4 separate regions of the Homo sapiens genome follow, and all the other regions are linked to region 2. Evidence: fine-mapped expression QTL. A gene starts in region 2. Each other region holds a variant in brackets. All regions are shown on one strand. Distances are from middle to middle. Region 1 overlaps WDR88 (WD repeat domain 88). Region 2 holds the start of LRP3 (LDL receptor related protein 3). Region 3 overlaps FAAP24 (FA core complex associated protein 24). Region 4 overlaps WDR88 (WD repeat domain 88).

What was found.
Region 1: its variant is fine-mapped to the expression of LRP3 in whole blood (INTERVAL, PIP 0.93).
Region 3: its variant is fine-mapped to the expression of LRP3 in whole blood (TOPMed, PIP above 0.99).
Region 4: its variant is fine-mapped to the expression of LRP3 in blood mononuclear cells (TOPMed, PIP above 0.99). The same link has a PIP of 0.9 or more in whole blood.

What each region holds. Positions count from the first base shown.
Region 1 is chr19:33,157,802-33,165,904 of GRCh38, forward strand. WDR88 (WD repeat domain 88) reads left to right here. Exons shown (of 11, transcript NM_173479.4): 8 at 2,613-2,695; 9 at 6,396-6,464. LOC124904691 (a long non-coding RNA gene) reads right to left here. Exons shown (of 2, transcript XR_007067228.1): 2 at 1,970-2,854. Among named protein-coding and RNA genes, the nearest start is that of TRT-AGT1-3, 15 kb to the right of the region's middle. RefSeq lists enhancers at 2,702-3,111, 3,455-3,624 and a cis regulatory region at 3,540. The variant G/A (reference allele first, on the strand shown) is at 3,649.
Region 2 is chr19:33,190,942-33,199,044 of GRCh38, forward strand. It overlaps LRP3 (LDL receptor related protein 3), which reads left to right and starts at 3,389. Exons shown (of 7, transcript NM_002333.4): 1 at 3,389-3,917; 2 at 5,789-5,836. The coding sequence starts at 3,845. RefSeq lists enhancers at 6,603-6,662, 7,824-7,993.
Region 3 is chr19:32,974,230-32,982,321 of GRCh38, forward strand. FAAP24 (FA core complex associated protein 24) reads left to right here. Exons shown (of 5, transcript NM_152266.5): 5 at 2,202-4,000. The coding sequence ends at 2,453. RHPN2 (rhophilin Rho GTPase binding protein 2) reads right to left here. Exons shown (of 15, transcript NM_033103.5): 15 at 4,363-6,027. The coding sequence ends at 5,767. Among named protein-coding and RNA genes, the nearest start is that of FAAP24, 6.0 kb to the left of the region's middle. The variant C/A (reference allele first, on the strand shown) is at 3,275.
Region 4 is chr19:33,148,074-33,156,176 of GRCh38, forward strand. WDR88 (WD repeat domain 88) reads left to right here. Exons shown (of 11, transcript NM_173479.4): 5 at 699-837; 6 at 3,108-3,237. Among named protein-coding and RNA genes, the nearest start is that of WDR88, 20 kb to the left of the region's middle. RefSeq lists enhancers at 1-126, 3,209-3,378 and cis regulatory regions at 42, 3,294. The variant A/G (reference allele first, on the strand shown) is at 4,264.

The sequences.
Region 1 (8,103 bases), 33 kb before region 2:
CTGGAGAAAGAGACCTTCTGTCTGATGGTGCCAGAACAAGTCCCAGGGAAGACTCCCATTGGCTCAGCTTGGGACACATGTCCATCTCTTAATGAATCACTTAGGGGGCAACGAAAGCCTCTGATTGGCCAGGTCTGGGTGACTTGCCCACCTGCAGAGCTAGGGTTGGGGTCAGAACCCCCTGATGCAGAGGGACTAAGAGTAGGCAAGGAGTGTTTCCCCACAGGAAATTGGGAGCTGTTGCCAGATAAAGGGACATAGAGGTGAATGGGGGCAGTGACAGGAAGCCACCGCGGCTAGCCAGCTCCAGGGAGGGAAGTGGGTGCTCTTGACACTCAGGAGCCAAACATATGCTCCCCTATCCTGGTGAGAAGTGGGGCTTGCTCTGTGTGTCTGGGGGCCTCAGCTGGCACACATGCCACTGGGGCCTGGCTTGAGAAGCACTAGGGTGCTTCTGGGCAACTTTCCCTCTTCAGCAGCACCCCTTGTCTAAGTCCCACTGTGAGGCACCCTGCCAGCTTCTGTCCTTGGCTTTATGGGGTTCAGAATCACATGCAGTTGAGCCAAAATTGTGCCACTGCGCTCCTACACTCTAGCCTGGGTGACGGAGTGAGACTCTGTCTCAAAAAAAGAAAAAAAGAAAGAAAAAAAAAAGAATCACATGCAGTTAATCATTATTATTCCTGATTCTGTATTTGTGAAGTCACCTACTTGCTGATATTTATTTGTAAACCTAAAGTCAACATTCATGGCACTTTCAAGGTCACTCACAGATGTGAAGAGCAGCAAAAAATCTAAGTCACCTCCCAGCTGAGGTTGGACAAGGCAACACTCTGCCTTCTTGTTTCACCTCCCACGTGGTAAAATGTCCTTTTTGTGGTCTATTTAGTGCCACCATTTTTTTTTGTTGTTGTTTGTTTGTTTTGCTCCCTCTGTTGCCCAGGCTGGAGCGCAGTTGCGCGATCTTGGCTCACTGCAACCTCTGCCTCCTGGGTTCAAGCGATTCTCCTGCTTCAGCCTTCCAAGTAGCTTGGATTACAGGTGCGCACTACCATGCCTGGCTAATTTTTGTATTTTTGGTAGAGATGGGGTTTCGCCATGTTGTCCAGGCTGGTCTTGAACTCCTGTCCTCATGTGATCTGCCTGCCTCAGCCTCCCAAAGTGCTGGGATTACAGACGTGAGCCACCACACCTGGGCTTTCTTTTGCTTTTTGTTAGTGATTTTGCTGTGTAAAATGGCTCCCTTGGCCGTGTGTGGTGGCTCACAGCTTTAATTTCAGTGCTGGGGGGGTGCTGAGGCGGGAGTATTGCTTGAACCCAGGAGTTTGAGATCAGCCTGGGCAACATAGTGAGACCCCATCTCTACCAAAACAAAAAAAAAAAATTTAGCCAGGTGTGCTGGCACCTGCTTGTAGTCCCAGCTACTTGGTAACTGAAGTGGGAGGATTGCTTGAGACCAGGAGTTTGAAGCTGCTGTGAGCTGATTGCATCACTGCACTCTAGCCTGGGTGACAGAGCAAGACCTTATCTCTAAAAATAAATAAATAAATAAATAAATAAATAAATAAATAAATAAATAAATAACAAATAAAATGATCCCTAACCACAGTGCCGAAGTGCTGTTTGCCGTTCCTAAGCGCGAGAGTGCTATGATGGGGAAAATGCATGCATCCATTCAGGCATGAGTTACAGCTGTTGGTTGTGAGTTCAATGTAAACAAATCAACAGTATATATGCAATAAGGTGTCTTTAAACAGAAACACACATAAAACAAAGTTACGTACTGATCAACTGATGAGAATGTGACCAGAGCTCGCAGGAAACTGACCCTGTATTTCCCCTAGGAGCGATGGTTCAGTATTCACTAATTCAGTGTCTGCAAAAACTGCAGAGGCCCCCAACCTTTCTGGCGCCAGGGACAGGTTTCATGGAAGACAACTTTTCCACAAATGGGAGCTGTGGAGGATGGTTTCGGGATGACCCAAGTGTATTACATTTATTGTGCCCTTTATTTTTATTATTATTACATTGTAATATATAGTGAAATAATTATACAAGTCAGCATCATGTAGAATCAGTGGGAGCCCTGAGCTTGTTTTCCTGCAACTAGATGGTCCCATCTGGGGGTGATGGGAGACAGTGACAGATCATCAGGCATTAGATTCTCATAAAGAGTGCACAACCTAATCCCTCGCATCCGCAGTTCACAATAGGGTTCATGCTCCCGTGAGAATCGAATGCTGCAGCTGATCTGACAGGAGGCCGAGCTCAGGTGGTAATACGAGCGATGGGGAGTGGCTGTAAATACAGATGAAGCTTTGGCTTGCTTGCCTACCACTCACTGTCTGCTGGGTGGCCTGGTTCCCAACAGGCCATGGATTGGTACCAGTCTGTGGCCCAGGGACTGGGGACCCCTGTCATAGAACATGACTACTGTAAATGATAAGAATCAGCTGTAATTGGCTTGGGGTCGTGGAGCCACTCCAGGAAGGGGTTTCAGTGTTGTCAGAGTGAGATGAGGTGGTGCCTCGCCAAGGCATCTTCAGCTGGCTTTGGGCTCACTTGGCTTGGAAAGTTGACCCCCATCTCCACCCTTTCATTTTCTGTTGCAGGCTCTTTTCTCATTTCTGGAGGGTTTGATAGGACTGTGGCTATTTGGGATGTAGCAGAAGGCTACCGGAAGCTCTCTTTGAAGGTACATGTGGCCAGCATGAGATTGAGGATCTGAACTTCCCTCCCGAGTCCTTCCTGTGCTCAATGCTGGTTGCTGGGGACACAGCTGTGAGTGACACAGGCCTTGATGCCTCTGTGGGCTGATGAAGGACAGACAGGAAGCCAGCAAACACACCACCGACTGTGAGGAGTGAAATGGAGAAACCACAACAGGGTGACATGATGGGGACAGAGGCGGGGGACCCATCCACATTGCATGGGCAGAGCTTCCTGGAGAAGGAGGTGTTTGAGCTGAGAACAGAAAGGACTACATAAGTGGGGATCTTGAAGAAGAAGGGCAGTCCAGGCAGATGGAACAGCTGATGCAAAAACCCTGAGGTGGGAGTGTCTAAGAACAGCAGAAGTTACTGTGCAGGCCTGGGCACTGTGGCTCACTCCTGTAATCCCAGTACTTTGGGAGGCTGAGGTGGGCGGATCACCTGAGGTCAGGAGTTTGAGACCAGCCTGGCCAACATGGTGAAACCCCCGTCTCTACTAAAAATACAAAAATCAGCCGGGTGTGGTGGTGCAAACCTGTAGTCCCAGCTACTTGGGAGGCTGAGGTGGGAGGATCGCTTGAACCCGGGAGGCGGAGGTTGCACTGGGCCAAGATTGTGCCACTGCACTCCAGCCTGGGCGATAGACTGAGATTCTGTCTCTAACAAAACAAAACAAAACAAAAAACAGAAATTACCTTGAAGAGAGACGCATGCCCTAGTGAGGCATGCACAGAAAGCTTGGGGTTCCAAAATGGGGATGTCAACTGAATGCTCTGGGCTACAAGTGAGAGGATGAGAGGAGCCCCAACTCAGAGTGGCTCTATGATACGGGGATGTGTTATCCAACACAGCAAGAACCCACAATTGCCTCATGCTGTGCCCCTGTTCCCCCAAGGGGCCCCACACCCCAGGATTTCTGCATACTCCCTGGTTTCAC[G/A]ATCTCACTGTCACCTTTGGCTGTGAATGCGTGCATCCCTGATTCTTGGTCTTTCTGTTCCCAGGGACACAAAGTAGACATGTGTCCTTGAGCAGCCCATATTCAGGTCCCTGGGGCTGGTCTATCTGAGCTGTCTTCTCCTAGGACTTGGGGAGACAAAGCGAGTTTCCTCACAGCAAATAAACGGATTAAAATGGAATGTTAAACCTCTCTGTGCTTAAAGTCCCTCTGTCATCTAGGCACAGTGGCTCATGCCTGTAATCCCAGCACTTTGGGAGGCTGAGGCTGGAGGATCATTGGAGGTCAGGAGTTCGAGACCAGCCTGGCCAACATAGTGAAACACCATCTCTACTAAAAATACAAAAATTAGCCAGGTGTGGTCATGCCCACCTGTAGTCCCAGCTACTTGGGAGGCTGAGGCATAAGAATCTCTAGAGCCTGGGAGGCAGAGGCTGCAGTGAGCTGAGATTGCACCACTGGACTCCAGCCTGGGTGACAGAGCCGGTTGTTCTATTCTCTCTCCTCTTCTCTCCTCTTTCTCTGTGCTCCCATCCTCAAATTCCTGTCCTTTAATTACACTAAGCGGTTTAACCTTCCCTCTGATTCCTTTTTCTCTAACCACACTATGGCCTCACTTTCTGCCTCTTTCCATACGGGGAAGGCCAAAGAAGGACAGAGATGCTGGCATAAAGCCCAGACATCATTCAGTGTCTGAGGCAGCAATGGCAGCTATCTGCTCTGAGCTGTTTTTTTTGTTTGTTTTTTTTTGAGACGGGAGTCTCGCTCTGTCGCCCAGGCTAGAGTGCAGTGGCATGATCTTGGCTCACTGCAAGTTCCGCCTCCTGGGTTCACACCATTCTCCTACCTCAGCCTCCTGAGTAGCTGGGACTACAGGTGCCCACCACCATGCCCGGCTAATTTTTTTTTTTTAAATTTTTATTTTTTAGTAGAGATGGTGTTTCACCATGTTAGCCAGGCTGGTCTCGATCTCCTGACCTCGTGATCTATCCGCCTCGGCCTCCCAAAGTGCTGGCATTACAGGCATGGAGCACCGCGCCCGGCCTGCTCTGAGCTCCTATGTACCCAAAGAAAACACCCCACTCCTTCTCTGCTTAAGCCACAGTGGATCGAGTTTGCAGTTATTGGAAGCGAAAAGCCCCCTCACTTACAGGGCCTCTGAGGGGTATTTCCTAGAACAAAGAATGCAAATGAAAACCTGAGACCAGCTGGGAATATAATATTTCTCCCCCAATCTTGCTAAACACCCGAGTACTATTTTAAAAAACCATACACAGTGGCACACACATTTGTAGTCCCAGCTACTCGGGAGGCTGAGGCAGGAGAATCACTTGAGCCCAGGAGGTTGAGGCTGCAGTGAGCTATGATTGAGCTGCTACACTCCAGCCTGGGGGACAGAGTAAGACCCTGTGTCAAATAAAAATAACTAAATAAATAAATATAGAATGGGTAGGGCGCAGTGGCTCATGCCTGTAATCCCAGCACTTTGTGAGGCTGAGGCAGGTGGATCACTTGAGGTCAGGAGTTCGAGACCAGCCTGGCCAACATGGTGAAACTCCATCTCTATTAAAAATACAAACATTAGGTGGGGTGTGGTGGCTCACGCCTGTAATCCCAGCACTTTGGGAGGCCGAGGCAGGCAGATCACGAAGTCAGAAGATCGAGACCATCCTGGCTAACACAGTGAAACCCCGTCTCTACTAAAAATACAAAAAATTAGCCGGGTGTGGTGGCGGGCGCCTGTAGTCCCAGCTACTCGGGAGGCTGAGGCAGGAGAATGGCGTGAACTTGGGAGGCGGAGCTTGCAGTGAGCCGAGATCACACCACTGCACTCCAGCCTGGGTGACAGAGCGAGACTCCGTCTCAAAAAAAAAAAAAATTAGCTGGGCATGGTGATGGGCACCTGTAATCCCAGCTACTTGGCAGGCTGAGGCTGGATAATTGCTTGAACCCAGGAGGTGAAGGTTGCAGTGAGTGGAGATTGCACCATTGCACTCCAGCCTGGGCGACAAGAGCAAAACTCTGTCTCAAAACAAACAAACAAACAAACCCCAAAAAACAACAACAACAAAAAAAATAGAATGTACATATATCACATGTCTTTACACTTTGTATTCCACCCTAAATGTTGTTGATGAAACCGAGGAAGTACAATGAGCTGCTCTGCTCTTTCCTTTTTTTTTTTTTTTTGAGACAGTCTCACTCTGTTGCCCAGGCTGGAGTGCATGATCATGACTCACTGCAGCCTCAACCTCCCCGGGCTCCGGTGACTCTCCCACCTTAGCCTCCTGAGTAGTTGGGATTACAGGCGCATGCCACCATGCTCGGCTAATATTTTGTATTTTTAGTAGAGATGGGGTTTCACTATGTTGCCCGGGCTGGTCTCAAACTCCTAGACTCAAGCAATCTGTCCACCTCAACCTCCCAGAGTACTGAGATTACAGGCATGAGCCACTGCACTCAGCCAGCTACTCTTAAATGTAAGCAACACTGGGTTCTTGACTTTTTGTTGTTTTTTTAGATATGGGACCTCACTCTGTTGCCCAGGCTGAAGTGCAGTGGTGCAATCATGGCTCACTGCAGCTTCCACCTCCTGGGCTCAGGTGACCCTCCCGACTCGGCTTCCCAAAAGGCAGGTTACAGGTGTGAGCCACTACACCCAGCTTGTTTTTGTTGTTCTTTCAAAATTATTTTCTCCACGTTTTCATTAAAATTTGATATTTCTTCAGGGCCATAATGACTGGGTGATGGATGTTGCCATTAGCAACAACAAGAAATGGATCCTGTCTGCTTCCAAGGTAAAAGTGGTCAAGCTTACAATATCGATCACGTTCGCCAGGATTGGTGATAGTGGAAGAGTTATTGCCAAGTATAAAATTCCTGGGTGGGTTCGGTGAGCTGTACCTGACCGGGCCATCGTGTTCACGGAGCTGCCTGGGAATGTGGACAGCATGTCCTTCTATGCGCAAACGCGATGAGTTTGGAGTTTCCAGGTATTTCTGTGTCTGTACCGTTGACATTTGAACTTTGTTGGAAAAAGAGTCTGGCTGGATCAGTGAGCAATGGAGCCAATGGGGGACTTGAAGGGAAAGCATCAACTCATGGATAAGCCTTTGACACTGCCCAAGGTCCGGGGGGGTCTCCCTTTCCTGCAGCACTGCATCTTGAGATTCCCATTCCACTGGCACATAGCAGCCAGCCCAGGATATCCCAACAGCTGTCCTGCAGGTGTGAACCCCGGAGAAGTGGGGACCTACTCCGCCCTCCACCCATATTAGAGCAGCAGTCCCCAACCTTTTTGGCACCAGGGACCAGTTTCGTGGAAGACAATTATTCCATGGTTGGGGGGCGGGGGATGGTTTTGGGATGGTGCAAGAGCATTACATTTATTGTGCACTTTATTATTATTACATTGTAATATATTATGAAATAATTATACAACCCACCATTATGTAGAATCAGTGGGAGCCCTGAGCTTGTTTTCCTGCAACTAGATGGTCCCATCTGGGGGTGATGGGAGACAGTGACAGATCATCAGGCATTAGATTCTCATAAGGAGCACACAGCCTAGATCCCTTGCATGCACAGTTCACAATAGCCTTCGTGCTCCTGTGAGAATCTAATGTGGCCACTGATCTGACAGGAGGTGGAGCTCAGGTGGTAAAGCTAGTGACAGGGAGCAGCTATATATACAGATGAAGCTTCACCCCTGCTCACCTCCTGCTGTGTGGCCCATTTCCTAACAGGCCACAGACTGGGGGGTCGGGGACCCCTTTATTTGAGCATGTCATGTTCTAGGCTAGAGGTTTCTAAATCCAGGAGACTGTGGGAGAGGCGCTGCCTAGCATGATCAACTTTTCAGAGAGCCAACTTGGAATACAAACATATCAGAAAAAAAAAACAACAAACCCATAATAATACAATATATAGCAAAAGATTATATGCCTATATGTTACTACTTTAATATAAAAATAAGAAGTAAAGGTTTACTTGAAATTATACATTATTTTATATTTTTTACTTTTTTGTTCCATGAATATTATTATTTAAGCAAAACAACAGGACTAGTGAACAGCGACAATTAGTAGTAATTAACAGTAGGGCAAATTAAACAAATATGTTTGAGAAAAATATAAAAATATTGGCCAGGTGAAGTGGCTCACGCCTGTAATCCCAGCACTTTGGGAGGCCGAGGCGGGTGGATCACCTGAGGTCAGGAGTCCGAGACCAGCCTGGCCAACGTGGTGAAGCCCCGTCTTTACTAAAAATACAAAACTTAGCCGGGCGTGGTGGCAGGTGCCTGTAATCCCAGCTACTCGGGAGGCTGAGGCAGGAGAATTGCTTGAACCCGGGAGGCAGAGGTTGCAGTGAGCCGAGATCACGAGATCAAGCCATGGCCCTCCAGCCTGGGTGACAAGAGCGAAACTCTGTCTCAAA
Region 2 (8,103 bases):
ATGAACTGAGTAGGGCACAGTAGAGAAGGGGCAGATGTGGGGGTGAGGGGTGTCTGGTCTATGGCTCAGCTAGAATAATGAGAGGTTTGCCCTCTTGGAAGTCACCTGTGATAAACTTGGGCATAAAGGTGATCATAAAACAATTTTTTTCAGTTTTATTTGCCAAAGCCACTTTTGGCCTTTGACCTTCAAATAGATTGTAGGATTTTTGTTGTTGTTGTTTTTGAGACAGAATCTCACTCTGTTGCCCAGGCTGGAGTGCAGTGTGCGATCATGGCTCATCGCAGCCTCAAACTCCTGGGCTCAAGCAATCCTCCCACCTCAGCTTCCTGAGTAGCTCAGACTACAGATGCATACCACCACACCCAGCACATTAAAATTTTTTTTTTTGTAGAGCCAGGGTCTTGCTGTGTTGCCCAGGCTGGTCTCGAATCCTGGCCTCAAGTGATCTGCCCACCTCGGCCTCCCAAAGTGCTGGGATTACAAGTGTAAGCCACTGTGCCTGGCTGGTTCTAGTTATTTGAAATCAGGAAAGACACTGACCATTCAACACAGAGTCCTCTTCATTAGTGTCTGGTAAGCAACTGGATAAGAGAGCGCTTGAGTTTGCATCTGCCTGTGGGTGAATGTTGGGGGAGGATGTGGGACTCTCCTGTGTCATTGGTTTCTTCTGTGTCCCACGAGGGCTCGGGGTATGTGGCTGATGAGTGGGCAATGGTGGTGGCCCTCTCGTATGGGATGGAGTGGGGACTTACATGGGATGCCTCTGTGTCCCTTCCGTCTCCTCTCTGCATGTCCTGTGGCTCCTCACTCCTGCAGCAGATTCCTGAAGGCGTCACTGGCCCACAGTGACTGTGACAGCAGCTTTGCTTCCTCCTAACTGGGAAGGCCAGCTTCTTGCCAGGAAGCCCCTGCTCTCATGTCTGAGCCCTCTGCCCCACCACTGCTCCCTCACCTGCCCCAGCCAGTCAGTTCCCATATTCTGGGTCCATGCCCACCATCTCCTTCCCAGTACTGAATTCTCCAATGGTTAGAAGCTTTTGGGTTGTGATGAATAGACACGTTCTGGATATAGCTTGAGTCAATGAGGGAGGTTTACGAAAAGGTTTCAGAGGTGGAGAGACCCAGGCGATTGCAGCTAGCGTGGAAGAGTGTTGAAGCAGAGACAGGAATACCAGGAACCTTTCCAGATGTGGTGAGAGGGCGGTGGGGGAGAGGACTGGGCCAGAGCTGCATTGGGGACCCCCAGCAAGGGTCTTGCCTGGCACAGCAACCTCTAGGGGGCACTAGACCATCATGAGACAAACGGGAAATGGGGTGTCAGTTATGGGCCGGGGTCTCAATATGGGCCGGGAGTAGGATAGGGCAGTGAGGCACTCACCTTGGGCACAGAATTGAAGGAAGTGCCAAAAAACTCAATAATGAAGATAAATCAACTTTAATGCAAATTTTTTGTGTGTGTGCAATGGGGACAGTTGTTTCCAATCAGCCCAAGGTTCCTGGGTACCTTGGCCGTTTCTTGCCTTATGGGTTTATGAGGGTTCACAATGGGATGTGCATAGATTGGGGAGCATGGAGATTTAGATATAGTCATGTGATTGTAGAGCTTTTCTTAGCCTTTCCACTTGGTTCAAAATATGGGAGGATATTTTGATAAGTGTGTCTAGGGGCTCACATTTTTCTTTTGCTTCAGGCTCCAACATGATTCCCATATTGGTCATTGGTCTGGACCCTAGATTCCTTACATAACGTGCAAAACATGCATTGAAGCAGGCAGCATCTTCAACAAAACCGCATATTTTGGCCAGGTGTGGTGGGTCCTGTCTGTAACTCCAGCACTTTGGGAGGCTGAGGCAAGAGGATCCCTTGAGTCCAGGAGTTTGAGGTTGCAGTGAGCCGTGATCACACCACTGCACTCCAGCCTGGGCAACAGAGCAAGACCTTGTCTCTACAAAAAAATGAAAAAATTAGCCTGACATGGTGGTGCACACCTGTCATCCCACCTACTTGGGAGGCTGAGGTGGGAGGATTGCTTGAGCCCAGGAGTTTGAGGGTACAGTGAGCTATGGTTGCAGCTCTGCACTCTAGCCTGGGTGAAAAAGTGAGACTGTCTCTAAAAAAACTAAGAAGCAGCAGCAGCAGCAGCAACAACAACAACAACAACAACAAACGAACAAACCGCAGATCCACCCTACCATTGCCCCTGCCTCTGTTGAGCATTTTTGCCATGCGTAAATAAATGCCTGCTCATCCGCAGTCAGCAGTCTGAGGAAATTCTGAAACCAAATTACACATAGGCTAGTGCTCTATGCCATCAATCTGTAATGTATCTTGTTATTTGATTTTTACGTCCTTTAATACATTTCCTAAGAAGTCTGCTTTGGAAAAATCACCAAAGGAATTAGAAGAGAGAGAATAAGAAAACCCAGAAAAACTAAAAGGATTTTTCTTCCCCCCATTTTTTATTAAAATCCAATCAACCTGCACAGTGCGAGTGAGTGAGTGACTGTCTACGCTTTCACTAACGGACCATCAGTTTCTCTCAACCTTCTCTCCATAAACGGAGAATATCAAATGAGGGTCTGGGGGTGTTAGAAAAGGGTTGGGAGCCTCAGCTCAGGTTGGTGGGCCCGCTGTGCCATGGAGCCTTTGGGGACCTCTGATTTCACATCCGTCTTGGCCCTAAATGGCCTTCTCAAACCTTCCCCCTGTCTCTCCTGGTTCTTGCCTCATTGGACTCAACCTCTTGGTGGGCAGCTCTCCAGAGGGCACCCCCAGCCTAAGAAGCAGGCCTCCTCCCAAGTCCCCAGCCTCACGAGGATAGTGGGTAACAGGGTGGGCTCAGGGGGCCCTGGGAGATCTCCAGAGGCCTCTGGTGTGTTCACCAATGTCCCCTGACAGGTCTTGCTTGGCACAGGGGGTTCCTCTTAGAGACGTGACAGGGCACTTGGACTGTGGCAAATGAAAGAAGCGGAGGGGCAGGAACAGGGACACCTTGCGAAGAAGACAGGCCTTAGCCTTGTGCCACCCCTATGAGGTCCCTAAGCCGTCCTCTCTCTCCCACCTTTTCCCAGTCCTCGCTCCCCGGTCCTCCTCAGCACAGCCGGCTCCAGGAGGGATCAATTCGTGGGCCCGGGAGGAGGCCAGGCGAGCACCGGCTGCCTGGAGCACTGGGCTGGAGCGCGGGGAGCGCGGCGGGGGGCGCGGGCGGGGCGGGGCTGGTGCGCAGAGCTGTCCAGCACCCCGAGGCGGGGCGTGCGCCCCCGGCCCGCCCCAGCCGCCTCCGCCCGCCCAGCCAGCGCCACTGCGGCTCGGCGGGCGCGTCACGTGGCTGGCGCAGCGCGGCCTCCAGGCTCCGGGCGCGGGCGAGGGGCCGGGCGGGAGGACTGACAGACCCACGGACGCTCTACCGGCGGCACCCGGCCGGGCGGGCTGGGCGCAGCGCGGGGCGGCCCGGGGACGCCGGGGCCGGGCGGGCTGCGCGCCGCGGGGCATGGGCGCGCCGGGGGTCCCCGGGCCCAGGCCGGCCGCGGCGGGGCTCCCGGGGCGCGGGGGCAGCGGCGGGCGGGGGTCTTCCCTGGCGGCCGCCGCTGAGCCCCCGCAGGGCCCGTGACGCCGCGGCCGATGTGGCCGCGCGCGCCCTACGGGCCTGCACCGCCACCGCACAAAGACGCCTCGGGAGCCGCCGCCTGCACCCGGGCCGCAGCAGCCACGCCAGCCGGAGCCCGAGCCCTAGCCCGAGCCCGAGCCCGAGCCGCAGCCAGAGCCAGAGCCGGAGCCGCAGCCGGAACCGGAGCCGGAGCCGCGGGGCAGGAGGCGGCGCCCGCGGGCGGCCGGGCCCGGCATGGAGAAGCGCGCGGCCGCGGGGCTGGAGGGCGCGCCGGGCGCCCGGGCGCAGCTGGCCGTCGTCTGTCTGGGTGAGTGGGCCGCGCGGGCCGGGCAGGTCCGGGTCCCCCGCATGGCAGTCCGCGCCGCGCCCTGACCGACCTCCTCTCCGGCCGCGGCATCCCGAGCCCCCCACCGCGGTGGCTCCCGCGCGGAGACCCAGAGAGGGGCCAGCACCGCTTGCCCGCCTGGCCCCGGGCCTGGGAGGGCGACTCTGGTGGCGCAGCCCCGGCTCCCGCCCCGCTCGGAGTAGCGCCCGGAGCCCGGGCTGAGCGCTGGCAGGAGGCCCTTCGTGCAGGCGGCAGCCTTCAACCCGGCCCGCCCGCGCTGAGCCTGGAGACGAGGGGGCCCCGGGAGCTGGGGACAAAGGCCAGGCCGGCTGTCCCCTGAAGAAGAAACTGTTTCCGGCCCGGAGTTGGGGTGGGGGCTGGTGTAAGCCGCAGATGGGGACTCGGGGTGCGGGGCAGGGCTGGAGGAGGGTGCCAGTGTGGAGGCGGCTTCCAGGGGACTCCTGTTTTCCCTTTGTGTCTCTCAGCCCCCAGGCAGGCCTGTTCAGTTTAGGAGGGTGCTTGGGTTGGGCCAGGGACCGGTCAAGGCCAGGCATGGGGTGGGAGGGGCTCCCGCCCTGTCCGGGAGTTTTTCTGTCCAGCTTTCCAGCGCTCTGTGTAGGCGAGAGGAGGAGTTAAATCCCCAACCCACATGGCTCCTTTATTTACTGTGATGAAGGAGGGAGGCCATTATAAGAACTGGGGGTCATTAGGGGACACCCTGTGATGTCACCAGTGAGGGCTCTGTAACCTGACAGGTTTGCTGAAGCCACTGAAATGACAAAGTAATCACCCCCAGGCCTCAGGGAGCTCCGAGGCTCTGGCAGGCCCTTGCCCCAGCTGTGTGAGCCTGGCTCAGTGGGAATGTGCCATTGGGGAGCATTGAGGGTGTAACCCCAGCGCGCCCACCCCAACCTCAGTGCGGGGTCATGTGTGCTGGGCTCTGAGCTGCTGGGTGCTGGCATCCCTGGTGAGCAGAGCAGGGGGACAGGCGCTCCATGCTTAGGAGCTTTGGCCTGGCTCTGTCCAGGGGGCCTGGGTGTCCTGGGTGGGGGCAGCGGTTCCTGCTTCCTGGCCAGGCGGGATCTGACACACATCCTGAACCCCGGGAAGTTGGGTTTCCCCCCACCCCCCGACTCTGGGCCCGTAACCCCCCGGGCCAGAGCAGAAGGTGAAAGTAAGGGCCAAACCCCACGGAGGTGGGTGCTTGAGGGGTGGCTGGGGAGTTCTGCTTTCCTCCTCAAAGTCAGCTTGGCACGGGGGAAGAGGATGGTTCCGTCACTAGCTGCGTGCCCTGTAAATGGGGATTATCAGAACTGCCTCCCCTCCTGCCTCTGCTGCTGCTGGGCGAGCAAAGCCCCTTGGTAGGGGGAAGCCCTTCAAAGTTGTAGGAGCAGGCCAGGGTGCGGTGGCAGGTGCCTGTAATCCCAGCACTTTGGGAGACCAAGGCAAGAGAATTGCTGGAGGCCAGGAGTTTAAGACCAGCCTGAGCAACACAGTGAGACCTCATCTCTACAAAAATAAAAAATAAAAAAATAACCAGGCATAGTGGTGCACACCTGTAGTTCCAGCTACTTGGGAGGCTCAGGTGGGAGGATTGCTTGAGCTCGGGAGTTTGAAGCTGCAGTGAGCTATGCACTCCAGCCTGGATAACAGAACATGGAGGCAGGGAGGTGGGGGTGAGGTGGTAGGGACCCTCTTGATGGGCAGTCTTGGGCTGCGCTCTGGGCCTTGCCCTGTAAGAGGAAGGGGACCAGCGGGCCAGCCTTGGGTTTAGCTGTGGTGTCCCTCATGGGCTGCTGCTGGTCCCCAGCAGGTATGTGGGACCCCTGACCCTTTCTTTGTATCTCCCACAGTGAACATCTTTCTCACCGGGAGACTCAGCAGTGCGGTTCCTGCCTTAGGTAAGTAAGCACTTTCTCTCCTTCCTCCACTCCTTCAGTCCCTTTTGGGTGAGTGGTCCCTGAAGACAGGCCTTCAGGGTCCTGGCACTACCCCGAGTTCCTGTGTGCATCTTTTCTACATCACAAAGGAGCTGTTTGGCTTTGGACAGGCTTCAACTTGTCTGAGCCTCAGTTTCCTCATCTGTAAAGTGGGTGAAATAACAAGGTCTACTCAAAACCTGTCTCTTAGTATTCCATGAGCCAGTGAGGCAAGCTCTTAGTGTGGTGCCTGGCACGTGGTGGCTTTATACCACCGGCAAGCTGCCGAGGGTCCCGTGGAATTGACATCTTGTGCCTCATTGCAGGCCATGAGCTTCCTAGGATTTAATTTATAGGAGTATGACTGAGGGGTGACACAGAGAGGCCCATGCCAGGGAAAGAAGGCTTTATTAATTTTCTTGAAAGGAGGGGACATGCCACGCCATGCAGGGCCACCTGGGAATTACTAGATTTGGACAAGCAGGAGCAGGGGTGGAAGAAAGGTGTAAGTTAGAAGCTGCATCACAGCTTCCGTGGGAAAGTCTCGACATCCAGGTGCTGTGGCTCACGCCTGTGATCCCAGCATTTGGGAGGCTGAGGCAAGAGAATGCTTGAGCCCTGGAGTTTGAGACCAGCCTGAGCAACATAGTGAAACTCCATCTCTACAAAAAAAATCTGAAAATTAGCTGGGCACGGTGGCATGTGCCTGTAGTCTTAGCTACTCGGGAGACTGAGGCAGGATGATTGCTTGAGCCCAGGAGTTTGAGATTGTAGTGGGCTATGACGGCTCCACCGTGCTCCAGCCTGGGTGACAGAGCGAGACCCTGTCTGTAAAACCAAAACCAAAACCTGAGGTCAAGGTGCAGCCCGGGAGAACAATGGGGGCCTCTGACTTGTTCGTTGCCTGCTGCTCTGCTCGGTGGGGCAGGAGGTGCCTGGGTTTCTAGTTCTGTGCAGGGCCCGGCTTGCTGGAGAAAGGACCCGGAGCTGTCAGGCAGCGGGACCCCTGCTGTGGTCAAAGGGGAGGCCCAGGGTGCACAGAAGCTGTGCTCACTGGCTCCTCTGGCAGGCTTGGGCCTCTTTCCCTCTCTCTCTGCCCTGAGCTGTGCTCTCAGGAGCCCGGCCTCCTCTGATGCTTCGGGCTGGCTCAAGGCCGGGCCTTGCTCAGCGCTGACCTAGCCCCAGCCCTGTCTGCTGTCCTGGTCCACACAACTGATGGAGGCCCAGTCTCCCATCCCAATTTCCAGGAAAAGGCTGACTGGCCCAGCCTGGGTCAGATGTCTGTGGCCATGGTAGAGTCAGGGGAAGGGGGAATGAGGGTGTCACAGCTTATGAATGTGAGCCCCAGGACACCCTCCTGCTGGTGGGTGTGTCACCCCAAATGTGTATATACTCCACTTTCAGAAAAGTGCTTCCCTGGGGACTAGGGCCAGTCATGGAGCTTGGGCGAGGAGGACACTGTCCAGGTCCTTGCGTTTGGTTGTCCTTAGCTGTCAAGACCTCAGGCCCCAGCAGGGTCCACGTTGCCAAACTCCAACGGCTGCTGTTCACCCCTGGTGCCCTCTGTGATGGGAGCTGCACGCCCAGCGCGCAAGGCCATGGGTGGTGATCTGGGACCCTAGCTGTCCTAGAGTCCACTTCTGACACCTCCAGCATTACTGACCACCTGCAGGTGGCCCAAGGTACCCACCTCCCACCACAGCTCCATGACTCTGCATTTCCAGAGCTTTCCCTGGGATTCCTGCTGTGTGGGACCCTGGATTGGGAAACATTCCCCCAGCCCCTTCTCCACCCTAACTAGGCTCAGTTGCTCCAGAGGGTCTAGCAGGGCTACCTGGGGACCTCACAGGTTTTTACCCCTCAGCAAACCCCATCCTAAGCCCAGGTATGTTGGGCCCTGACTGGTCAGAACACCTCCTGCATCCCCCCAGCCTCTGGGCTCAGCCCTGAAGCTACTGTGGCTCCAACGGGGAGGGCCTGGGCAGGGGCTTCATGCAGTTTGCAGGCAGCTGGCAGCTTCCCCGGCACGTCTGGGGTGGGACTCCCAGCTCCCCGTCGTCGGATTACACCAGGCAGGTTGGCGGGGGTATTGATCAACTTTGGAAATTGGATCTGCAAATTGTGCTTTCTCAGGCCTTGCAGTGTCCTCTCAGGAATATTTGATGACTCTTTGGACCAGGAAAGGACACTGGCCCGAAAGTACCTGGTCATTCCTTCCCTACTTGTGTGGGCCACCATGGCTCCGAGGG
Region 3 (8,092 bases), 220 kb before region 2:
CACCTTCGTGGTAGTCCTGTCCTCATGGACACTCAGCTGCTCTCCAGAAGCAACCATCAATCCAATCTATGTCATTCTCTGACTTGGTTTATAAAATCTCTTCGAGGAATTTAAATGCGGAAGCTGCCTCTGCAGCCAGCTCAGCTTGTCACACACTCCAGGCAAGTGTATCACAAAGTATACAAGTTGGAGACCTGATTTTAGATTCTCAGGGTGTGATGGCTCCATCAGTCATTATCCTGCCCTTTCGCTGGTGAAAACGTCAACCTAGAGGCCAGGCGTGATGGCTCATGCTTGTAATCCCAGCACTTTGGGAGGCGGAGGCGGGAGGATCACTTGAGGCCAGCAGTTCGAGACCAGCCTGGCCAACATGGCAAAACCCTGTCTCTACTAAAAATACAAAAATTAGCTGGGCGTGGTGGTGGGTGCATGTAATCCCAGCTACTCCGGAGGCTGAGGCAGGAGAATCACCTGAACTGAGGAGGTGGAGGTTGCAGTGAGTGGAGATGCTCCATTGCACTCCAGCCTGAGCAACAGGAGCGAAACTTTGTCTCAAAAAAAGAAAGAAAGAAAGAAAATGTTAACTAGAAGCTGCTTTGTCTCATCCCGTATTTTTGTTAAGCATCAGCACCTTGTGCAAGTTTTTTTTTTTTCCCTTTTTTTTGAGGCGGAGTCTCGCTCTGTCCTACAGGCCAGAGTGCAGTGGTACAATCTTGGCTCACTGCCATCTCCACCTCCCGGGTTCAAGCCATTCTTCTGCCTCAGCCTCCCGAGTAGCTGGGACTACAGGCACGCACCACCACACCCGGCTAATTTTTGTATTTTTAGTAGACAGGGTTTCACCATATTGGCCAGGCTGGTCTCAAACTCCTGACCTCATGATCCGCCCACCTTGGCCTCCCAAAGTGCTGGGATTACAGGTGTGAGCCACCATGCCTGGGCAGTTTTTTTTTTTTTTTAGATAGGGTCTTGCTCTGTCATTCCAGCTGGAGTGCAGTGGTGCAATCTTGGCTTACTGCAACCTTTGCCTCCTGGGTTCAAGCGATTCTCCTGCCTCAGCCTCCCTAGTACCTGGGATTACAGGCACCCACCACCATGCCCGGCTAATTTTTGTATTTTTAGTAGAGATAAGAGTTTCACCATGTTGGCCAGGCTAGTCTCAAACTCCTGACCTCAGGTGATCTGCCTGCCTCAGCCTCCCAAAGTTCTGGGCCACCGCACCAACCAACACTTTTTTTTTTTTTTTTGAGATGGAGTTTCGCTCTTGTTGCTCAGGTTGGAGTGCAATGATGCAGTCTCGGCTCACTGCAACCTCCTCCTCCTGAGTTCAAGTGATTCTCCTGCCTCAGCCTCCCGAGTAGCTGGAATTACAGGTGCCCGCCACCACGCCCAGCTAATTTGTATTCTTAGTAAAGACGGGGTTTCTCCATGTTGGTCAGGCTGGTCTCGAACTCCCGACCTCAGGTGTTGTGCCCGCCTCAGCCTCCCAAAGTGCTGGGATTACAGTCGTGAGCCATCGCGCCCGGCCGCCAACACTTATTTTTAAAATCAGTTTAGTAGCTTACGCCTCTGATCCCAGCATGGGGAACATCAATTGTGTGTGTGTGTTGTTTGTTTTTTTCACTTTTGTTTTCTTTGTTATGTGTGTGTTGTTTTTAAATCACCCCCTCTGATGTGGAGCTAGAGTTGAGAGCCACATTGAAGATGCAAGCAGCCATGAATGGTTCACAGATCCCTCTCTACTATATCCCTTGCGTCACCGTTCCTAACTTTCCTTGATATAACACTGTTGTCTGCCTTAGTATAACCACCACTAACTAGACCAGGTTTCTCCTTTGAGGCAGGCTTCCTGCAGCTCCTGCGTGAAGTAGGCCTAGTTTAGGTGTAGCCATCATTTAATCCTGCACAACTGAAATGTTTCTTAATGGACCAACAGAAAGTGTTTGAATTCATCTGTGTGTTTTTCTAAACATTCTGAAAACGCACATTTTTGTAAATTAATGTCTTAACTCCTTTGTGTGGTTCACCTTTCAATAATTTTACTGATGTCTGAGAAATTATATTCATGATACATGAAAACATTTGTTCCCTTAAGTCAAGCTGAGCCAAATGGAAAAACGCAATTTCTACAAAACATATTTTAAGAAAACGGCCAGTCCTCCAGAGGGCGCTCACGTGCTGTTGCTTTCATTGTGGTTCAGGTTCAAGAGCAAACCAAAGAGCCCAGTAAGAACCCTCTTCTCGGGAAGAAACGGGCCCTGCTGCTGTCTGAGCCTTCGCTCCTTCGAACCGTGCAGCAGATCCCAGGAGTTGGAAAAGTTAAAGCTCCCCTTCTCCTCCAGAAGTTTCCAAGCATCCAGCAACTGAGTAATGCTTCCATTGGGGAACTGGAGCAGGTGGTCGGACAAGCAGTGGCACAGCAGATCCATGCCTTCTTCACGCAGCCCAGGTGAGGGCTGGCCTCAGGGCCACGGCATCTTCTCCTGAGACCACAAACACCAGGATCTTGTTTTCAGCTTTAAAAACCAAGAGAATGGGCCGGGTGCACTGGCTCACGCCTCTAATCTCAGCACTTTGGGAGGCCGAAGACAGCGGATCATCTGAGGTCAGGAGTTCAAGACCAGCCTGGCCAACATGGAGAAACCCCTAAAAATAGGAACAATTAGCCAGGCATGGTGACAGGTGCCTGTAATCCCAGCTACTTGGGAGGCCGAGGCATGAGAATCACTTGAACCCGGGAGGCGGAGGTTGCAGTGAGCTGAGATCGTGCCACTGCACTCCAGCCTGGGCACCAGAGCGAGACTCCGTCTCAAAGAAAACAACAAAAAAAAAAAAAAAAGAAAAAGGATTTTCTCCAGCAGCAACCAGTGAAAGATGAGGCGAGGCTTGAATGGAGCCCGTGGGTCGTCCTGCCTTAGCGTCTGAGTTCAGCTTGTGAAGTTAGTGGGCCGCAGAGGGCACTGCCTTCATTCTGCTAAGACGAAAAGGGCTGGTGGGATCTTCGCAAGAGAGTCAGGGACTCACACTCAGCAAAAAGCATTAGGGCCGATTTTAATGTGCGACCTTGACCTGCATCTGTCATGGAAAGTGCCTTCTAAAAAGCTTCAGTGGTGGATGTGACCATCTGAAGGAAACAAATGTACAAGGAAGCACTGTGTATCCTAAGCCCTGGGTTCCCAGAGTTTCACCTGCTGTTCATCAGGTCTGGCCTTCATATACCCGTACTGCGAGGGCTGTTTCCAATGTAAATAAATAACTGCGCAACAGTTCCTTC[C/A]TCCTTTCCTTTGTTCCTCCCTCCCCCCGGCCTTTTTTTTTGGCAGATGTACAGTTTGTTTATAATCACTGCATATGTCTTCTGCACACAGAAAGTATGAAGTCTGAAGTTCCCACTTAAAGTTGAAAACTCAACGGCCGGGCATAGTGGCTCACACCTGTAATCCCAGCACTTTGGGAGGCCAAGGGGGGTGAATCACAAGGTCAGGAGATCCAGACCATCCTGGCCGACATGGTGAAGCCCTGTCTCTACTAAAAATACAAAAATTAGCTGGGTGTGGTGGCACACACCTGTAATCCCAACTACTCAGGAGACTGAGGCACGAGAATCGCTTGAACCCAGGAGGTGGAGGTTGCAATGGGCCGAGATTGCACCACTGCACTCCAGCCTGGATGACAGAGTGAGACTCCATCTCAAAAAAAAAAAAAAAAAATTTAAAGTTGAAAACTCAACATGCATGAGGCAGAACAGGCTGTGTTTGTATATGAAAGGCCCAACAATGGAAGGATACAAGAAAATGATGGCAGCAGCTGCATCTAGTGAGGGAAGCAGGGGCTGGGGATCAAAAGGTACAAATTGCCCATTCAAAAAATAGACACAGGCCAGGCACAGTGGCTCACACCTGTAGTCCCAGCACTTTGGGAGGCTGAGGTGGGAGGATTGCTTGAGTCCAGGATTTCGAGATCAGCCTGGGCAACATGGCAAGACCCCATCTCTACAAAAAAATCAAAAAAATTAGCCAGGCATGGTGGCTCATGCCTGTAGTCCCAGCTACTCAGGAGGGTGAGGTGGGAGGATTGCTTGAGCCCGGAAGGTTGAGGCTGCCATGAGCCACAATTGCGCCACTGTCCTCCTGCCTGGGTGACAAAGCGAGACCCTGTCTTGAAAAAAAGACAAAAACAAAAAATAAGCACAAAGATACCATCTGTCTTAGAAAATACTAAGATAACTTGACAGCTTTTTAAGTTCTGCTTTGTGAAATGTTAGTAACTAAAAAAATCAGAACATTAGAAACTGTGTGCATTGGGGAGAAACAATTTGAAAGAGGAGGGAATGAAAATGAAATAAAAGTAAAAAGAAATATTAACTCGGGTAAATGAATATGTTTATTTAAATATGTATACAAGCATGGCCCTAGGAGCAGCAGATACACTTTCCCAAAGGTGGTTGCTTCCTTTAAGATATTGCACAATAGAAAATAAACTCTTGTCAATCCTTAAAATTAGTCTTCAATGCTATGTATTTTAGCTATGTAACTTGTACTGTGTCAACAGTGAACCTTATTAGATTCACGGTGTCATCGAACTTATAGCAAGATAAAAATCAATCAGTAGGAATGTCATTTTAAAAAGTAAAATAGTGGGACGGTTGTGGTGGCTCATGCCTGTAATCCCAGCACTTTGGGAGGCTGAGGTGGGTGGATCATTTGAGGTCAGGATTTCGAAACCCGCCTGGCCAACATGGTGAAACCTCACCTCAACTAAAAATACAAAAATCAGCCAGGCATGCTGGAGGGCACCTTGTAGTCCCAGCTATTTGGGAGGCTGAGGTAGGAGAATCGCTTGATCCCAGGGGGCGGAGGTTGCACTGAGCTGAGATCACACCACTGCACTCCAGCCTGGGCAACACAGCAAGACGCTATCTCAAACAAAAAAAGGAAGTCAAATAGAGCTTTAAACCTGAATCATTTACATCTTTACTTTATAAAATGTAAAACTACTTTTTTACCCAAGACTTAAAATATAGAATTATGTAACTTCTACTTTAAACAAAATGAAAAATGTTTTGAGTATCAAACAGTATATTATCTACCTTGTAGACAGCATCTTCATCTAACACTGCCACTGTGTTAGTAATTCTTAAATGACATCAAACTAGAAGAAAAGCTGCTCCTACATTGTTTTTATTTAATAAGACAAATTTGGCACTAGACTTTTTCTAGAAATAGCATTCATAGTCTATCGATATAATAGTAACATCTTGTTTTAGGTTAATGAATTCCTATTAGGAAGCAGCACTTTGGGACAGTTTTTAGTGACACTAATTTAATTCTATCATTACAGTCCTCTGACCTGCCTTAATTCCAGGATCATCTGAATTCTAGGTTAAGGAATGATTATTAGCCAAACCTGGAAACAACTACAAATTGTACTGATATAGGTAACCCCAATTTAATAGTGACTAAAAGTCATAATTGTCACCATTAAAAATAGCCATATTTCATATCTTCAACACTATTCTATTTACAATACTTTATATAATAAATAACTTACAGCAGTATAGTAACACACCTCAAAAAAGTTCTTTTTTCACTAATTCCTAGAGGTTTCTTGGTTACTTTCCTTCATAAAAACACATCAAATGTGAGTTTACACTATGAGAAAAACAGGATTTGAGAACAGATAGATAGATATTTTCCATTATGGCACAAACGTTTAAGGCCGAGTCAGCACCGGAAATGTTCAGGGCCTGAACATGTTTGTTTCCTCACATTAGTACCAAGAACTGTCTGAGTTGAGAAGGCTGAAAGGGGAGGGCAGCTTCTTCTTGACCTGAGGCCGTGCAGCCCCGACCGATGGGAGGCACAAGGTGCTGGCTGACTTCTGTCTGTTCTTGTTGGTGCCCCAACTCAGGAAGGAAAGCTTCTTGGAGATTTTCTTGGTTTTATCAGTTTTGTCGTCATCATCAATGGCTAAGCAGATCATGGAGTACGTTTTCTGCATTCCCACGGAGTATGTGGCACTCTTATTATGCTGCACATAGAAAAGTAAGAAAAAGGGCGTCAGGCATCATCAAGATAGATGATAAAAACTACGAAGTTTGGCCAGGCGCGGTGGCTCACACCTGTAATCCCAACAGTTTGGGAGGCCGAGGAAGGCGGATCACTTGAGGTCAGGAGTTCAAGACCAGCCTGGCCAACATGGTGAAACCCCATCTCTACTAAAATACAAAAATTAACCAGGTGTGGTGGTGGATGTCTGTAGTCCCAGCTGCTTGGAGCCTGGGCACAAGAATCACTTGAACCCAGGAGGTGGAGGTTGCAGTGAGCTGAGATCACACCACTGCACTCCAACCTGGGTGACAGAGCAGGATTCTGTCTCCAAAAAATAAATTGAACAGACATAATTCGGAAACTCAGGTGACCAATGCTTATATAGAATTAGGTTCTTAAAACAAGGACAAACTTTTTTTCTTTTTTGAGACAGGGTCTTGCTATGTTGCCCAGGCTGGTCTTAAACTCCTGGGCTCAAGCGATCTTCCTGCCTTGGCCTCCTGAGTAGCTGGGGCTCTAGGTGTGCACCACCAGGTCCAACAAGGATAATTTTTTGTTTGTTTTTTGTTTTTGTTTTTTAAGACAGAGTCTCACTCTGTCGCCCAGGCTGGAGTGTAGTGGTACGATCTCGGCTCACTGTAAGCTCCGCCTCCCGGGTTCACGCCATTCTCCTGCCTCAGCCTCTCTGAGTAGCTGGGACTACAGACACCCGCCACCACACCTGGCTAATTTTTTGTATTTTTAGTAGAGACGGGGTTTCACCCCTTCTCGATCTCCTGACCTCGTGATCCGCCCGTCTTGGCCTCCCAAAGTGCTGGAATTATAAGCGTGAGCCACCACGCCCGGCCCAACAAGGATAATTTTTAAGGAATGTACTCAATAGTAACAATTTAAGCTTAGGAGCCACAACTCATATTTTAAGGTTCTTCTTCTATTTGAGAAAGTAATAATACTCATGGTCACGAATATGAAAGTACAGGGTGGGGCGCGGTGGCTCACAACTACAGTCCCAGCTACCTGGGAGGCTTAGAGGGGAAGATTGCTTGAGCCCAGGAGGTTGAGGCTATAGTGAGCTGTGATTGTGCCACTGCACTCCAGCCTGGGCGACAGAGTGAGACCTCTGTCTCAAAATAAAAAAAAAGGGGGGGGGCGGGGGGAAGGGAAGAGGGGAAAGGAAGGGAAGAGGGGAAGGAAAGGGAAGAGGAGAAGGGAATGGAAGAGGGCAAGGGAAGGGAAAAAAAAAAAAAGAGTATGCAGTGAGCAATAGGTCTCCCTGTCACCTGGGCTTCTAAGGCCCTCCATGTTATACTTCTAGAGATGATGTACAAGTATTTCTATATGTACCTAAGTATATTACCATTCATTTTCTTAAAAGGAATATACTACACTATTCTACACCTGATTTTCTTTTTTTCTTTTTTTTCTTTTTCCTTTTTTTTTTTTTTTTTAAGATGGAGTCTCGCTCTGTCGCCCAGGCTGGAGTGCCATTTTTATCATTTTCAAGTGTAGAGTTCGGTGGCATTAATTACATTCACATCATTATGCTCCACTGCCACCATCCATCTCTAAAACTTTTTCATCTTCCTCAGCTGAAACTTTGTACCATTAAACACTCTCTACTATTAACTTTCCAAGAATCATGTAGGATTCAAACTGGAAATCTAAGGAAGCTTGCTTTCTGAAGACTTCCACATGGGCTATCACCGGCTTCTAAGGTTTGCCTAACATTGAGATTGTTTAGTTCGCCACATGTTTATTGATGGTCTACTATGTTCTGGCACTAAAATTAGGCATACAATATATCGCTGCAATAGTTGAGGACATTGTTCCTAATATAAACCCTAAGAGGGGCCGGGCACAGTGTCTTACACCTGTAATCCCAACATTTTGGGAGGCTGAGTTGGGCAGATCACTTGAGGCCAGGAGTTCAAGACCATCGTGGCCAACATGGTGAAACCCCATCTCTACTAAAAATACAAAAATCAGCCAGGTGTGGTGGTGCACACCTGTAATCCCAGCTACTCAGGAGCTGAGGCAGAAGAATC
Region 4 (8,103 bases), 43 kb before region 2:
ACAGGAAGTGGGGCTGAGGCCATGGGACAAAGGCCATGTGCCCCCAAGAACCAGGGTTCTGGCCCTTACCAGTCTGTTCTCTTTATATCTTGGAGGGGGTCACTCTCCGTCCATCCCACAGGCTCAAGACTCCCACTCGGCCCTGCACCCCTTCCAGGCACCCTCAGCTCTGCTCAGGGGCCTCCTCGGGGTCTCCTGCCTCACCCCTGCCGTCCCTCCCTCTCAGCTCCTGCAGGCCTTTTCTGTCCCTTCCTCCTTCCTTTCCTTAAAAAACAACCTTTCTTGTTAGTGCAAAGGTCAGTTTGTATTCATTGTAAACATTTTTAGAAAGACAAGATAAGCCAAGTTTTTATTTTATGATGACGATGATGATGATTTTTAGAGACAGGGTCTTGCAAGCTCTGTCACCCAGGCTGGAACACAGTGGCGCCATCGTAGCTCACTGCAGCCTCAAACTCCTGGGCTCAGATGATCCTCCCGCCACAGCCTCATAAGTAGCTGGGACTACAGGCGAGCACCGCCACACCTGGCTCATGTTTTACTTTTGTAGAGATGGAGATCTTGCATGTTTCCCAGGCTAGTCTCAGGCTCCTGGTCTCAAGCGATCCTCCAGCCTTGGCCTCCCAAAGCACTGGGTTTACAGGTGTAACACACCACACCTGGCTTAAAACAACCTTTTGATTGCTGGCTCATTTCAGTGGAAGGTCAGGTATGATACCTTCATCGTCTCCTGTAAGTTTTCTCCTGATGGTAAATACGTGGTCTCAGGCTTCGACGTGGATCATGGAATCTGCATAATGGACGCCGAGAACATCACCACCGTTTCCGTCATCAAAGGTGAGGGTGTGCGGGCTCCCTGTATCTTCAGTCTGCCATAGGAATAGCCACTTGTCACTGACTGACGGTGACCTTCCATTGCTTTATTTGGTGAAACTGTAATGGTATGAAGCACGTCATTAAAGCTGGGACACTAGGCTAGGTGCGGTGGCTGGGATTGCATCTGTAATCCCAGCACTTTGGGAGGTTGCTTGAGCCCAGGAGTTTGAGACCAGCCTGGGCAACAGGGTGAAACCCTGTCACTACCAAAAACAATACAAAAATTAGCCAGGTGTGATGGCATGCACCTGTAGTCCCAGCTGCTTGAGAGGCTGAAACGGGAGAATCACTTGAACCCGGAGGTGGAGATTGTATTGAGCTGAGATTGAGCCACTGGACTCCAGCCTGGCAGACAGAGTGAGACTCCATCTCAAAAAAACAAACAAACAAACAAAAAACAAACAAACAAACAAAAAAACACACCAAAACTGATCCTCTTCAGTTAATGCTTTTCCATTCATTCAGTCTTGTGCTTTTAACAAAGGACACAATGTTCGGCTCCAACCTCATGTGGTCATTGACAGCCTAATCTTTTATTGAGGGGAGGCTCAGGCTTCTTAACATTAACATTAACAGAGTTAACATTAACAGAGTCTTGCTATGTTGCCCAGGCTGATGTCAAACTCCTGGCCTCGAGGGATCCTCCTGCCTCAGCCTCCCAAAGTGAGGGATTATAGGAGAAGCCCCCTCACCCGGCCTACCTGTATCTTTTTTTTTTTTCTTTTTTGAGATGGAGTCTTGCTCTGTCTCCTAGGCTGGAGTGTAGTGGTGCGATCTCGGGTCACCTCAACCTCCACTTCCTGGGTTCAAGCAATTCTCCTTGCCTCAGCCTTCTGAGTAGCTGGGATTACAGGCACCCACCACCACGCCCAGCTAATTTTTGTATTTTTAGTAGAGATGGGGTTTCACCATGTTGGGCAGGCTGGTCTCGAGCTCCTGACCTCAGGTGATCTGCCCGCCTTGGTCTCCCAAAGTGCTGGGATTACGGGCATGAGCCACTGTGCCCAGCCTATTTTTAAAATATAGGACTTAGTAATTGTTGTATGACAGTTTCCTGGTTGGGACACTGTGTGATGATGATACCACATGTTCCCATGGGGGCTGCTGGGTGAAGGACATGGGTGATTTCTCTGTTATTCCTTACACCTCCATGGGAGTTTACAATTATCTTAAAATTAAAGTTAAAAAAATGTGTAATCATTGTAAAGACATTCATTATGGGCTGGGCGTGGTGGCTCATGCCTGTAATCCCAGCACTTTGGGAGGCCGAGGCTGGTGGATCACCTGAGCTCAAAAGTTCAAGACCAGCCTGGCCAACATGGTGAAACCCTGTCTCTACTAAAAATACAAAAATTAGCCGGGCGTGGTGGCGGGCACCTGTAATCCCAGCTACTCGGGAGGCTGAGGCAGAATTGCTGGAACCCAGGAGGTGGAGGTTGCAGTGAGCCGAAATCGCGCCTCTGCGCTCCAGCCCAGGTGACAGAATGAGGCCCTGTCTCAAAAATAAAAAAATCATTCATTATGTAAATAAAAAAGCAAAAGGCTGCTGTGTCTGTCCTGTCTCCTCCCCAGAGGCACCTGTTATGAACCATACATTGCTGGGCAGTCTTCCTGAACCCTGTGTGTATGCCTGTGCGTACAAGTGTTTGCACACACAACACTGCTTCTCATATGTGCTTTGTGTTTCTTTTTATCGATGTGGCACTATGCCATGTGCACTGCCCCACAGCTTCCCTAATAGCCCCTAAGAGCCCACTTGACACTCTGACCCCACCATGCTTCAGACTCCAGCTTTGCCCCACACTGCTCCATGATCCGGCCCAGGCCTTTGCAAGCACTGTTCCTTCTTCCTGGAGTGCTCTTCCATTTCTGCTTCCCTTGCTGGCTTTTCGGGCCCTTCCTGGACCCCTCAGGGTGGCCAGGCTTATGTTGTCTGGGCCTTGGTGGCCCGTGCACTCATCTCATGATCTGTGGCATGTGGCAGGTCGTTGCCTGGTCCGGGGTGTCTCCTCCATCAGACTGGCAGCTCTGCGGGGGCAGGGAACCTGCTGTGCTCCCGGTTCAAAGCCTGGGACATAGTAGTCACTCAGGAATGTTTGTGCAGGTGTGTAGCTCCTGATGAAAACTGGAATTGTGTTTTGTAATCGTCACTGGCTGGGGAAGTCGTGGGAGTCCTCCAGCCCAGCAGGTGGAAGGCGTGGTCTCAAGTCCCTTTCCTCCGTGTTCTGCAGATCATCACACAAGGTCCATCACGTCATGCTGCTTTGACCCCGACAGCCAGAGGGTGGCTTCTGTCTCATTGGACAGGTGCATCAAGATCTGGGATGTTACATCCCAGGCCACGCTGCTCACCATCACTAAGTGAGTTGGACCCCAGGAGGCCAGAAGGGAGTTTGGGTGGGGCGTCCCCATTCATGACTTCCTGAATTCCACATAAGCCAGCATCCATGTGGACACGTCTGTAGCTTGGTCATAGGTGCTCTGAGGAGGCTGGGGACAGGCAGGCAGGAGGGAGCCATCAGCTGTGGCCTGTGGGCTGGGCTGGGCCTCAGATGCATTTGTTTCAATGTGAGCCACTAGTGGAAATCATTGTGCAGAGAAGTCCACAAAAGGTGAAGTTCCAGCATCTCCTGTAAAATGGGAAGGTCTGGCTGGGCGTGTGGCTCATGGCTATAATCCCAGAGCTTTGGGAGGCCAAAGTGGGAGGATCACTTCAGGCCAGGAGTTCAACACCAGCCTGGGCAATGTCACAAGACCCCATCTCTACAAAAAATTTAAAAATTAGCTGGGTGTGGTGTCACACACCTGTAGTCCCAGCTACTCAGGAGGCTGAGGCTGGAGGATTGCTTGAGCCTAGGAGTTTGAGGCTGCTGTGAGCTATGATTGCACCACTGCACCCCAGCCTGGACAATGAAGTAAGACCCTGTCTAAAAAAAATAAATAAATAAAGTGAATTCAGTCGTTTTGGAGATATTACATTATCATTTAAAAAAATTTTGGGGCTGGGCTCGGTGGCTCATGCCTGTAATCCCAGCACTTTGGGAGGCCGAGTGGGGCGGATCACCTGAGGTCAGGAGTTCGAGACCAGCCTGGTCAACATAGTGAAACCCCACCTCTAGTAAAAATACAAAACTTAGCTGGGCGTGGTGGCGGGCACCTGTAATCCCAGCTATTCAGGAGGCTGAGGAAGGAGAATAGCTTGAATCCGGGAGGTGGAGGTTGCAGTGAGCCAAGATTGTGCCACTGCACTCCAGCCTAGGTGACAGAGTGAGACTCTGTCTCAAAATATATATATATATATATACACGCACACAACATAAAACATGATATTTTAACCATTTTTAAGTGTGCAATTCTCTGCCATTCATTACATTCACAGTGTTGTGC[A/G]ACCATCACCACTATTTATTTCCAAAATGATTTCATCATCTCAGACAGAAGCTCTTACCCGTTAAGCAATAACTCCCCATTCCCCATGCCCCCAGCCCTGGGTAATGTTTATTCTACTTTCTGTCTCTATGAATCTGCCTATTCTAGATATTTCATATAAGTAGAGTCATACATTATTTGTCCTCTTGTGATTAGGTTATTTCACTTAAAATAATGTCCTCAAGGTTCATCTGTGTTGTAGCCTGCATCAGAACATCAGAACTTCATTCCTTTTTTTTCCTTTGAGACTTAGTCTCGCTATGTCCCCCAGGCTGGAGTGCAGTGGTGCCATCTTGGCTCACTGCAACCTCTGCCTCCTGGGTTCAAGTGATTCTCCTGCTTCAGCCTCCTGAGTAGCTGGGATTACAGGCGCCCACCACCACACCTGGCTAATTTCTGTATTATTAGTAGAGACGGGGTTTCATCATGTTGGCCAGGCTGGTCTCAAACTCCTGACCTTGTCATCCACCCACCTCGGCCTCCCACAGTGCTGGGATTAAGAACTTCATTCCTTTTGATGACTGAATAGTACTGCATTATAGGTGTACATACCACATTTTGTTTATCTGTTCATCTGTTGATGACCTCTTAGGCTGTTTCTACCTTTTAGTTATTGGGAATAATGCTGCTATGAACACATGTACATGTAACTTTGAGTTCCTGCTTTCAATTCTTTTTATTTTATTTGATTTCGAGACAGAGTCTTGCTCTGTTGCCCAGGCTGGAGTGCAGTGACGTGATCATAGCTCACTGGAGCCTCGGATTCCTAGGCTCAAGTGATCCTCTTGCCTCAACTTCCTGAGTAGCTGAGACTACAGGTGCACACCACCATGCCTGGCTAATTTTTAAGTTTGTTTTTTTTTTTTTTTTGCAGAAACGGGGTCTCATTATGTCTCCCAAGCTAGTCCTGAACTTCTGAGCTCAAGTGATCCTCTCACTTTGGCCTCCCAAAGTTCTGGGATGACAGGTGTGAGCCACTGCACCTGGCCTGTTTTTAATTCTTTACTCTGTATACCCAGGAGTGGAATTGTTGGATCATATGGTAATACTGTGCTTAGCTTTTTCAGGAGTGGGGATCTTGCTTATTAATTTTGCACTGAGAACTGAAAATGATATAGCCCGACCGACATTATGAATTTTTTAAATCCTCTAGCAAGATCAGCTATATCATTTGCAGGGTGCAATCTCGGCTCGCTGCAACCTCCGCCTCCCGGGTTCAAGCAATTCTCCTGCCTCAGCCTCCCGAGTAGGTGGGACTACAGGCGCCCGCCACCATGCCCAACTAATTTTTGTATTTTTAGTAGAGACAGGGTTTCACCACATTGGCCAGGCTGGTCTCAAACTCCTGACCTTGTGATCCACCCACCTCGGCCTCCCAAAGTGCTGGGATTACAGGCATGAGCCACAGTGCCTGGCCACACTGTGGTTTTCATTTACACTGTCATTCATATTGTTTTTCTCCTATAGGTAAAAAGTCATTTCTCTCTTGCTGCTCTGAAGATATTTTTGTTGTCCTTAGTTTTCTGAAGTGTAATTATGTGTCTGGGTGTAGATTTCTTTGGATTTATCCTGTTGGGTTTTACTCAGATTCTTGAATCTGTAGGTTTATATATTTTGCCAAATTTGGTAAAATTTCAGCCATTTAAAAAAATTACTTTTAAAGTTGACTCCATCTTGTCCAGAACTGTACGTGCAGCATAGCCATTTTCCCCAAACTTCTGTACAGGTGAAATGGCCTTCTACGAGAAGTGGGATTTATGTGAAATGAGAGTCCATAGAGATACCTCTGGTTTATTTATTTATTTATTTATGTATTTATTTATTTAGAAATTGCTATGTCTTTTTTTTTACTTTAAGTTCCAGGACACATGTGCAGAATGTGCAGGTTTGTTACATAGGTACACATGTGCCACGGTGGTTTGCTGCATCTATCAACACGTCATCTAGGTTTTAAGCCCCGCATGTGTTAGGTATTTGCCCTAATGCTCTCCCTCCACTTGCCTCCCACCCCCTGACAGGCCTCAGTGTGTGATGTTCCCCTCCCTGTGTCTATGTGTTCTCACTGTTCAACTCCCACTTATGAATGAGAACGTGTGGTGTTTGGTCTTCTGTTCCTGTGTTAGTTTGCTGAGGATGATGTCCCTGCAAAGGACATGATCTCATTCTTTCTCATGGCTGCATAGTATTCCATGGTGTATATGTACCACATTTTCTTTATCCGGTCTATCATTGATGGGCATTTGGGTTGACACGAAGTCTTTGCTATTGTGAATAATGCTGCAATAAACATACGTGTGCATGTGTATTTATAGAAGAATGATTTATAATCCTCTGGGTATACCTCTGGTTTAAACCTCAATGACAGTGTCTGGCTGCTGGGAGAGCTTGCAGTCAAACCTCCATGATATGCCAGCATGGTTCTTAGCTCACCAGGCACTGGGAATTGGTGAGGTTTATCCCGGATGGCCCTGCGAAGTTGACATTTCTTCTCCTTTGGCGTTGCTCAGTTTGTGCCTTTCAAAGAACCAAAATGGGTTCCAAAACTCTGATCTGAGCTCTAGAAAATTGTTTTGCTCAACCTTTTCTTCAGGTCAAATGATTGATTTTATGATCCAGGCTACTCAGAGAAAACTCTGCTTACAAGAGGAGGTGAGAATCACAGGAGAAAGACATTGAGGGTTACAAACAAAAAGTGGCAAAATACAGACAGGCTTTTTATTATTATTATTTTTCTGAAAAAGAAGATGCTTAAAAATTGGAATGAATAACTTCATTTTTTTTCTGAGATAGAGTCTTGCACTGTTGCCCAGGCTGGAGTGCAATGGCACAATCTTGGCTCACTGCAACCTCCACCTCCTGGGTTCAAGTGATTCTCCTGCCTCAGCCTCCAGAGTAGCTGGGACTACAGGCATGTGCCACCATGCCCAGCTAATTTTTATATTTTTTGTAGAGATGGGGTCTTGCTATGTTGCCCAGGCTGGTGTCAAAATCCTGGGCTCAAGCAATCCTTCCACCTAGGCCTCCCAAAGTGCTGGGATTATAGGCATGAGCCACTGCACCCAGCCAAATAACCCACAATTTTATTAATTAAATATACAACACTGAAATATACTTGAATAGCACTGAAGACAAATGAGGATAGGAGTGAGAAAAAGGGAGAGTGAATAGTTGGGGTGGAGAAGCAGAGGAGTAAGTAAGAGAGGGGTGGAACAGGGGGAGACCACGCCTGACATTGTTGGGGGAAAGATGGGGAGCAGGAGAGAGCCTCTGTGTAAGCGCCACCCAGCACCAAGCCCCAAAGGCTGTCTGTCAATCAATCACTCCTGACACCAGCTGCTTTTCCCTCCAGCGCCAAGGGAATACTGCAGAATCTTCCCAAATGAGGGCAATTTGTGCCCCAGTGGACATTTGACAATGTCTGGACTCATGTTTTGTTGTCACAACTGGGTGTGGGGGTTCCTGGCATCTAGCCAGGAGAGGCCAGGGATGCTGCTCCACCTCCTACAGAACACAGGACGGCCCCCACAACTCTGAGTGACCCAGCTCAAAATGTCCACCTTGGTGTGGTTGGCCCAGTGCCGTGGCTCACGCCTGTAATCCCAGCACTACTTTGGGAGGCCAAGGCAGGTGGACCACTAGAGCCTAGGAGTTTGAGAGCAGCCTGGGTAACATAGCGAAACACTGTCTCTATTATTATTTTTCTAAAAATTGGTGCAGTCGAGAAATGCTGGAACAGCGTGACAGTCTGAGCAATTCACATCTGGACCATGGTAGGCAGTGATCAAAGGCATGATGAACATG